Homo sapiens: one gene and its partner. The protein of the gene in region 1 interacts with the protein of each later gene in a pairwise test. Each region holds a gene or a part of one and is shown in the gene's direction. Other genes may lie near its edges.

What was found. Proteins that work in one complex are often made in the same cells at the same time.
Region 2: the proteins of SEC62 (region 1) and GLUD1 interact in a two-hybrid assay, tested with the Homo sapiens proteins (one large-scale study listed by BioGRID and IntAct).

What each region holds. Positions count from the first base shown.
Region 1 is NC_000003.12:169,975,609-169,981,319, forward strand, and holds part of SEC62 (translocation protein SEC62), read left to right. Parts: coding exon 1-108; intron 109-1,337; coding exon 1,338-1,443; intron 1,444-5,711. UniProt on the Homo sapiens protein: Mediates post-translational transport of precursor polypeptides across endoplasmic reticulum (ER). Proposed to act as a targeting receptor for small presecretory proteins containing short and apolar signal peptides.
Region 2 is NC_000010.11:87,070,844-87,074,343, reverse strand, and holds part of GLUD1 (glutamate dehydrogenase 1, mitochondrial isoform a precursor), read left to right. Parts: intron 1-3,500. UniProt on the Homo sapiens protein: Mitochondrial glutamate dehydrogenase that catalyzes the conversion of L-glutamate into alpha-ketoglutarate. Plays a key role in glutamine anaplerosis by producing alpha-ketoglutarate, an important intermediate in the tricarboxylic acid cycle.

The sequences.
Region 1 (5,711 bases):
AAGTTGGTGAACCATCTAAAGAAGAGAAGGCTGTGGCCAAGTATCTTCGATTCAACTGTCCAACAAAGTCCACCAATATGATGGGTCACCGGGTTGATTATTTTATTGGTAGGATTATATCAGTAAAATCGTATTAGTGTACATATGTTATGAAGTTAACCTACATTTGGGATATGTAGAAGTTTTAAAAGTGCTTTCCAAATGTGATTGTTCTGGTGATGGACATATGGCAGTTGATTATTCTGTTCTTTTCTTTTATGATTGAAAATGTCTATAATAAAAAGATAACATGTTTTCTAATAACAATTGTTGGAAATTTTTTTAAATAGGATTTATTTTCAGTGTTTTAAAATACTACCTTTTGTTTAGATAGTATGCGTACTTGGAACTAAGAGCACTGGCTTTTTTTCCCCAAACAATGTCATTATAAGCTGATGTCATTTATAACACCAGAGCTTATAAGTAGGGGTTGAGTTTGCCTTTCTCATCAATTAAAAGTGAATTGCAGCTGGGTGTCGTGGCTCACACCTATAGTACCAACACTTTGGGAAGCCAAGGCAGGAGGGTTGCTTGAGGCCAGGAGTTCGAGACCAGCCTATGCAACACAATGAGACCCCATCTCTACAAAAAAATTAGATGAGTATGATGGCATGCGCCTCTGAAGTGAGAGGATGGCTTGAGCCCAGGAGTTAGAGGCTGCAGTTAACTATGATCCCACCACTGTACTCCAGCCTGGGTGACAGAGCAAGAACCTGTCTCTTAGAAGAAAAAAAAAACTAAATTGCCAGTGTAGAGGAAAAGTCCTTTATCGTCTCTTTCTTTACTGTTTTTAATGATTTGACATTCATTACAAGTTTTAAAAAGTAGATGTGCTAATCTCTTCAGATATAATATGTTTAGCTGTTTCTTGTGACAGCAGTGGATTGTTGACAGAGCTTCTTCCTCAGTGTATTAGAGTAAAACTTGATGAGAATTTTTATTACTTGCAGGGAGTGGTGAACATTTTGGTTTATCTACATATGCTTGTGATTAATAAGAGTGATAGTTACATACAGATATTTTAAATTTTTGAATATTTCCCCATTAATTTAACTTGCTTTAGTTGGTCTTTCTGAATGCCATTATTTCCCAACATTACTTTTAAAAGATACTTAATATAGTTCACAAGTTGAGGTTTTGGGGAACTACTAATCATGATCATGTTAGATTTAGTTTTCTGTTGAGTTTGGTTTTCTTTTTTGTTGCCAGAGTGTTGAAATTTTACTTTATAAAATATTATTTAGATAGACATAAATCCCCATGTATGCTAAATTTAAAATAATGAATTTCTTCTTTAGCTTCAAAAGCAGTGGACTGTCTTTTGGATTCAAAGTGGGCAAAGGCCAAGAAAGGAGAGGAAGCTTTATTTACAACCAGGGAGTCTGTGGTTGACTACTGCAACAGGTACTGTTTATTTCTTAGTGAAGAATAACATAATAATTTTAAATTTTCTTCATAGTCCTGAAGCTCCTTACATCATTAAATGTAGTGATACTACAACATAACTCAAATACTGTTTTCACATGTAACCTGATTTCTTTGGTACCTCTGGAAATGTGTTTGGTATTAGACTATTATACTTTTAACTGTATATAATTTTTATTTATGTTCTATTTTATATATTTGTGAGCCCTACTGAAGGGTCAGCAACAAAAGTCATATACCAGTGCCTACAGTAGAAAAGAAAGTTTTTTCTTTTGTAGAGCAAATTGGTTGAGGAGTCTTTTTTTCAAAACTTTTGCAGGAATTCCTATTAGCTGTGTTACCGCTACTTTTTTAGTGCCTGCACCCTGAGCCATAAGCCTCATACCCTTTCCTATTTGGTTCAGTGTTTGCTAATGTAGTATTTCTTCTAAAATCAAGGAAGCTGCAACATCTACCTTATCTTTTTCTGAGAATTTCAAGATGAAATACAGCTAATTCAGTAATATACATATATTTTTCATAATAGATACTTTTTCTGTTTTGAAAAAACTTTTGATGTTAAGTGGTTTACCTAAAAGACAAAATCACCTTCCTTTTGGAAGGAAGTATGCTGGTTTTTCTTTCCATTTCTTTTCTTTTTTTTCTTGGTTTACTTAATACTAAGCATTTTCTTAATATATGTTAACTAAATTTTGTTTTCATAACACTAAAGCTTATCTTTTGGGATTTTAGATTATTTTATGTGTACTAATATTTTATTTAATGGCACCTAAAGTATCAGCCACATAAGAACCCTCTTAAAAACCACTATTTCACAACCTGGTTTCTTAAGCTGTCAAGTTAAAGAATTATTGAATATTTCTTAAAATTCTTAGTTGCCAAAGACTAGAGGTTACTAACAGACCTTTTAGAAACAGTAGGTTTCGGCCAGGCACAGTGGCTCATGCCCGTAATCCCAGCACTTTGGGAGGCCGAGGCAGGTGGATCACAAGGTCAGGAGATCGAGACCATTCTGGCTAACAAGGTGAAACCCCATCTCTACTAAAAATACAAAAAATTAGCCAGGTGTGGTGGCGGGCACCTATAGTCCCAGCTACTCGGGAGGCTGAGGCAGGAGAATGGCGTGAACCCGGGAGGCGGAGCTTGCAGTGAGCCGAGGTTGCGCCACTGCACTCCAGCCTGGGCGACAGAGTGAGACATTGTTGAGACAAGGATGAGCTAACACTCATGCAGTTGATATTTGCTTGTCTTTTGTAGCAACTTGTCTAGTTAGAATTAGCTCCAGCAAGCATATATCCAGGGCAACTTGAATCTGCTCGTGGGGAAAAAATAAAAAGGTGAATAGAATTAGCTCCACGGTACAAACTTCCAGGCTGGGCACAGTGGTTCACGCCTGTAATCCTGACACTTTGGGAGACCAAGGCAGGGAGATCACATGAGGCCAGGAGTTCAAGACCAGCCTGGCCAACATAGCGAAACCCCATCTCTACTAAAAATACAAAAATTAGCCAGGCGTGGTGGCATGCACCTGTAGTCCCAGCAACTTGGGTGACTGAGACATGAAAATAGCTTCAGCCCGGGAGGTGGAGGTTGCAGTGAGCCGAGATCGCACCACTGCACTCCAACCTGGGTGACAGAGCAAGACTCTGTCTTAAAAACAAACCAAAAAGTACAAACTTCCTTACCTGCCACAAAACTGATGTATTTTTTACATGTTGTGTAAAAATTAAGAGATGCTACAAATGCAGAAACTGGGGCACAGAGAACTTAAGTACTTTATCTAAGGCTACACAGCTAGCAAGTGGCAGATCTAGGGTTCTACATCTAGCAGCCTGTCTCCACAGTCTGTGTTCTTAACTACCGCTCTATACTGTCTCCTCCAACAAAATGACGATGCATTTAATGGAGCTATTAGATCTGTAAGCCCAAATCTCTGAGTAGAGCAGCCAGTATGAATCCACATTTTTTGGCTTTTTAGGAGCCTTGGTACCTTGTTATTTGAAAAGCTCAAAAGACCTGAGTACAGAGAGTGTCCAAAGACACTCGATTTTCATTGTATACGCTCTTCCCACTGATGTCAGATTGTTTGAGTCCTTTCTGCACTAAAATAAATGAGAATAGCATAACTTTAAGGTCTCCAGAGCCACTTCTAATATAACCGTAGAGTCTTATTGGCCAGTTCTCATGAGTTGCTGCCCAATAGCAGACAAAATCACAAAGGGTCTCTTGACCAGTTTCTTTTTTTCTTTTTTTGGCATCCTCCAATACTGTCAGTTTTTCTGAGGCAGCTAAGTGGCATGAGGGAGTCTGAGGAAAAACAAAATAGGAAAATGTAGGATGATAAAACAATCTTTTCTAATGTGATCTATACCTTTTTATGGCCTATATCATGAATGAACTCATACATACTAGGTTAAGTCTCCACAAGACTTTGTATCACTGACCCCCAATCCAGTTATGTCGTCCTCAGTCTTGTGCACATGCCACACTCATTTTTTCTTCTAGTCTTTTTCCTATCATAACTTGCCACTTTCCCTAAACGGTTCTGTTTCCTCTGTCCCACCTGCCTCTCAAAATCACAAACAAATCCCTCAAGTCCTTCCTCTACCGAATGTACTCTTCCCCAGGCCCTCCAGCCTTCATCAGCCTTTGTATCTAAAGTTCTACTGAGTTTATCAAGTTAGTACCTCCCAGTTTGGCCCTTAACTATTTTAGAATTGCTACATATGTGTGAGTTTTTTTAAAATCTCCTGCCAGCTAAATCTGAAAACAATTGTAAGACTGTTTTATACTTTATTGTAACTCCATAGCAATTACCACAGTGTGAGCACTTCATAAAAACTCACCTTTGCCACATTGGTGGAAGTCCCCAACATGTCTGGCATTTAATAAATGTTTGTTAAATCTGAAAAAAAAATGGAAGTGAAGGAAAAAAATACAGAAGTAATTTTTTAAATGTTTTAGAAGCTGTTTTAAAACCACTTACTCAACAAATAGTCTAGGCTCCAGGAATACAATAATAACTATGACTTGGTCCCTACATCAAAACATATTCTGATCTGTTAGGGAAGATTTATAACTAATCACAATGCAGTGTGTTGAATAAGGAAGAGAGAGATGGTGAAACTATGAAGAATGACATCACACAGAAAATGTTTTAAGTAAATTTTGAAACATAAATAGGTGATTACCCAACAAACAAGAGAAGAAAGGAAATTCATTCCAAGCAAAGGGCATAGAACACACCGAGATAGGAAAGTATGAGTAGTTGTGTAAAAATGTCAGAGAGTTTTATGTTAGTAATGTGTTCTATGTCATGGGTTTAAAGCCAAACAAACGGAGGCTCTGATACTATACAAATGTTAAATAATGTCAGTCTCATCTTTCAACCTAATTGTGAAATTATTTTCAACACAATTTGATTGAAAGTTAATAATCTACTTTTCTTTCGTGGGGGTGGGCAGCTGTGCAGGAAAATTGACAGAAGCAGATGATCCTGCTGGTTCTATTGCCTTCAGTATCTACTCATCAGGGAAAAGGCTTTTTTCTACTAAAGTTGCATTGTTTGTTTTTAAAATTCTTTATTAAGAATCATTTTTTCCACTAAAGTAAATTTAAGAAAATGGGAACTGTTGCAAATGATTTAGAAGAAAATCCAAATTACTAATAATGTTGCTTCGTAGATAGCCAGCCACATTACCATTTGAGAATATATACTTCAAGTATCTGTATGTGTACACATGTACTCTTAATATATGGACATGTATATTAACTGCATTATAAAATGCTGCTTTTTCAATTAACATATGAGGAACAGGATGTATTTTTATTTTCATTTGGAGTGGAAATAAATGTTCCTGAAAGAAAATCTGGAAATCATATAAGTGCACAAAGAAAATTAGAATATATTTTCATTATAGATTTTTTTTGTAAGACATTCTGGAGTAAAAAATGTAAGACTACACTTCATATTCAAATATGCCACTACTATTCTTAAATCCCACTTTGTACTCATAAGTAGTTAATCATTAAGGTCTCATTTCAGATTCTTGTTTGTTTATATATGTATATGTATTCATAGCAGATATGATGGTAGCATTTTGAGGGGCAGTTTGAACATTTGCACAATTATATGCACAATCATATTTACATAATTTAAAAATAGCTCTTCCAAATAAGTAGTATGGGCCAAATGAGGAAACCTAGAAATTAGCTTTGTGGAAGTGCTCATAGGCTGGACCTAATTG
Region 2 (3,500 bases), on another chromosome or scaffold:
TTTTTACTGGAGATGGGGCTTTGCCATGTTGGTCAGGCTGGGCTTGAACTCCTGACATCAGGTGATCCACCCATCTCGGACTCCCAAACTGCTGGTATTACAGATAGGAGCCACTGTGCCCGGCCTCCTACTATTTGTTATAGGAGCTTTTGCCAAACATACAACATTTCTGAAGATATTAATCTTTGTTTGCTTGATGTTTTTGTATCTTACTATTATCTGTGTTTATATTTTCTTTGTGCACAATCTGAATATTCTTTTTATGATATGTAAGTATTTGTCATGTACCCTTTAATTTTCAAGCAGTTTAAACCTATATTTTTTTTAATCTAGAAGGCTTCTAATTTGTTTGAATAGAATATGCATAACTACTTAATAGAATGCTTGCCCTATCAGTATAGTTAATAGAATGTTAATACTTACTGCCGAGCGTGGTGGCTCACACCTGTAATCCCAGCACTTTGAGAGGCCGAGGCAGGTGGATCACGAGGTCAGATCGAGACCATTCTGGCTAACGGGGTTTAGTAGGAATCCCATCTCTACTAAAAACACAAAAAATTTGCCAGGCGTGGTCGCGAGTGCCTGTAGTCCCAGCTACTCAGGAGGCTGAGACAGGAGAATGGTGTGAACCTGGGAAGCAGAGCTTCCAGTGAGCCAAGATCACGCCACTACACCCCAGCCTGGGCAACAGAGCGAGACTCCGTCTCAAAAAAAAAAAAAAAAAAAAAAAAAAGAATGTTAATTGTTACTTAATAATAGAATACTTGTCCTATCAATATCAGTATAGTTAAACAAAATAAGGTCTACTTAAATAGAAAATAAAGTGTATTTTTCTCTACTTTCCTTTCTTAGCATTTCCCCCACAAGTTCCCATGAAATTAAACTATAAAGGCTGGGCATGGTGGCTGGTGCTTGTAATCCCAGCATTTTTGGAGGCTGAGGTGGGAGGATCACTTGAGCCCAGAAGTTCGAGACCACCCTGGGCAATATTACAAGACCCCATCTCTACAAAAAATGAAAACATTATCCAAGCGTGATGGTGCATGCCTGTGGTCCCAACTACTAAGATGGGAGGATCCCTTAAGCCTGGGGGGTTGAGGCTGCAGTGAGCTATGATTGTGCCACTGCACTCTGGCCTGCCACACTCTGGCCTGAGCAACAAAACGAGACCACATCTCAAGAAGAAAGAGAAATGAAATAAAGCTATTCGGATTCATTTTTAGGAAAAAAAAGTCATGAAATAAATGTCATGAAATAACCTAATATAGAAATACAGTAAGTATAGGTAACTCTAAAACTTGACTAGATTTGGCCTGTCTTTGATAATAAAAGGCATTTGGGCCTTTGATGTGCCGCATACCCAGCACTACTGTGAACTTGTGCATCCTTACATGGAGTCTGTTAACGTAAGTTAATATGAGTTAACTATCTCGCTCACACTTTTATAGGAGTGCCTACTGATTCTGAGATATGGTGAATTGAAGTCATCTTCAGCCTGTTAATAGCCTTCATAATTTTTAAAAGGTCTTTCCTCTTCCCCTAAATCTCAAACACATTTTATAGTCTTGAATGGTTTCAGACTTTATTCAGTCATATTTGTCACCCATATCTGCAATATCTCCAGCTTAATTTTATCAGACTTGACAAGTACCTAATAATTCCAAAGGTCAAAAAGTGATTCATTGGAATACTGAAAGAAAACACAGCTTAAACTCTAGTAATTTGATTTATTTGCTTAATGTGCAAAAGCCTCATTGACCCAGGATGCAGTTAAATTGACGTCTTGGCCCAGAAAGCTTTGAAGCCTAGGAGGTAGGCAAAGGGAGTTTTTTCTCTCACTCCTCGGCAAACCTTCAAATTTGATGTTATTTATCTGTTATTTCCTGACTGCCCATTCCACAGAGAGTGTCAGATTGAGGCTCAGACCTGAGCCTGAACCCTGATCCTGTCACATGTGTGTTTAGCATCAGCTTGTAAATTTCTGCAAAACAAAAGAAAAAAAGAGGCTGGGATTTTTATAGGAATTTCATTGAATCTGTACACTAATTTGTGGAGTATTGCCATCTTCCCCACCCTCCCCAAAAAGGTTTTGTCCTTTCACCCAGGCTGGAGTACCAGACAGCAGTCACTGCAACCTTGACCTCCTGGGCTCAAGCAATCCTCTCACCTCACCCTCCCAAGTAGCTAGAACCACAGGGGTGTGCAACTGTGCCTAGCTAATTTTTTAATTTTTTGTGGAGACACGGTCTCATCACGTATCCCAGACTGGTCTCAAACTCCTGAGCTCAAGCAGTCTTCCCACCTCAGCTTCCCAAAATTCTGGGATTATAGGCATGAGCCACTGCACCTGACCAGTATTGCCATCTTAACCATATTAAGCCTTCCAATGCTGAATATGAGATGTCTTTCCATTTATTTAGGTCTCTTGATTTCTTTCAATGATGTTTTGTAGTTCTCATTGTAGAAGTCTTACATAGAAGTCTTACAACTAAATATTTTACTCCTTTTAATGCTATTGTAAGTGACATTGGTCTATAGTTTTCTTATGATGTCTTTGTCTAGTCTTTGTATCAGGACAATTCTAGCCTCATGGAATGAGTTGAGGAGTGTTCCTTCCTCTTCTGCTTTTGGAAAAGCTTTTGAAAGGTCAATGTTCATTCTCTTGTGTGAGTGTAAATATCACCTAAGTTCTGCAGGACCCTGATGTCTCCACCCTTCTCATCCCCTTATATCTCTGTGTACCAAAATTACCCTTTCATCTCCTACTCTATAGTCACATGCTGTTAGAAAAGTTGCTTTTTTAAAAAAGATTAACTTCTGCCTCATACCTGTTCTCTATATAAGAATTTATCTGTTAGGCCAAGCATGGTGGCTCATGCCTGTAATCCCAGCACTTTGGGAGGCTGAGGCGGGTGGATCACCTGAGGTCAGGAGTTCGAGACCAGCCTGGCCAACATGGTAAAACCCCGTCTCTACTAAAAATAAAAAAAAATTAGCCAGGCAGGTACCTGTAATCCCAGCTACTCAGGAGGCTGAGGCAGGAGAATTGCTTGAACCTGGAAGGCGGAGGTTGCAGTGAGCCGAGATCATGCCATTGTACTCCAGCCTGGGCAGCAAGAGTGTAACTCCTTCTCAAAACATAAAAATTAAAAAAAAACAAAAAGAATATATCTGTTATTCAGGAACTACTTGTTTTTTGTTTTTGTTTTTGTTTTGAGACAGAGTCTTGCTGTGTCACCCAGGCTGGAGTGTAGTGGCACGATCTCAGCTCACTGCAAGCTCCGCCTCCCGGGTTCACGCCATTCTCCTGCCTCAGCCTCCCAAGAAGCTGGGACTACAGGCGCCCGCCACCACGCCCGGCTAATTTTTTGTATTTTTAGTAGAGACAGGGTTTCACTGTGTTAGCCAGGATGGTCTCGATCTCCTGACCTTGTGATCCACTCACCTCGGCCTCCCAAAGTGCTAGGATTACAGGCATGAGCACCGCACCCGGCCTCAGG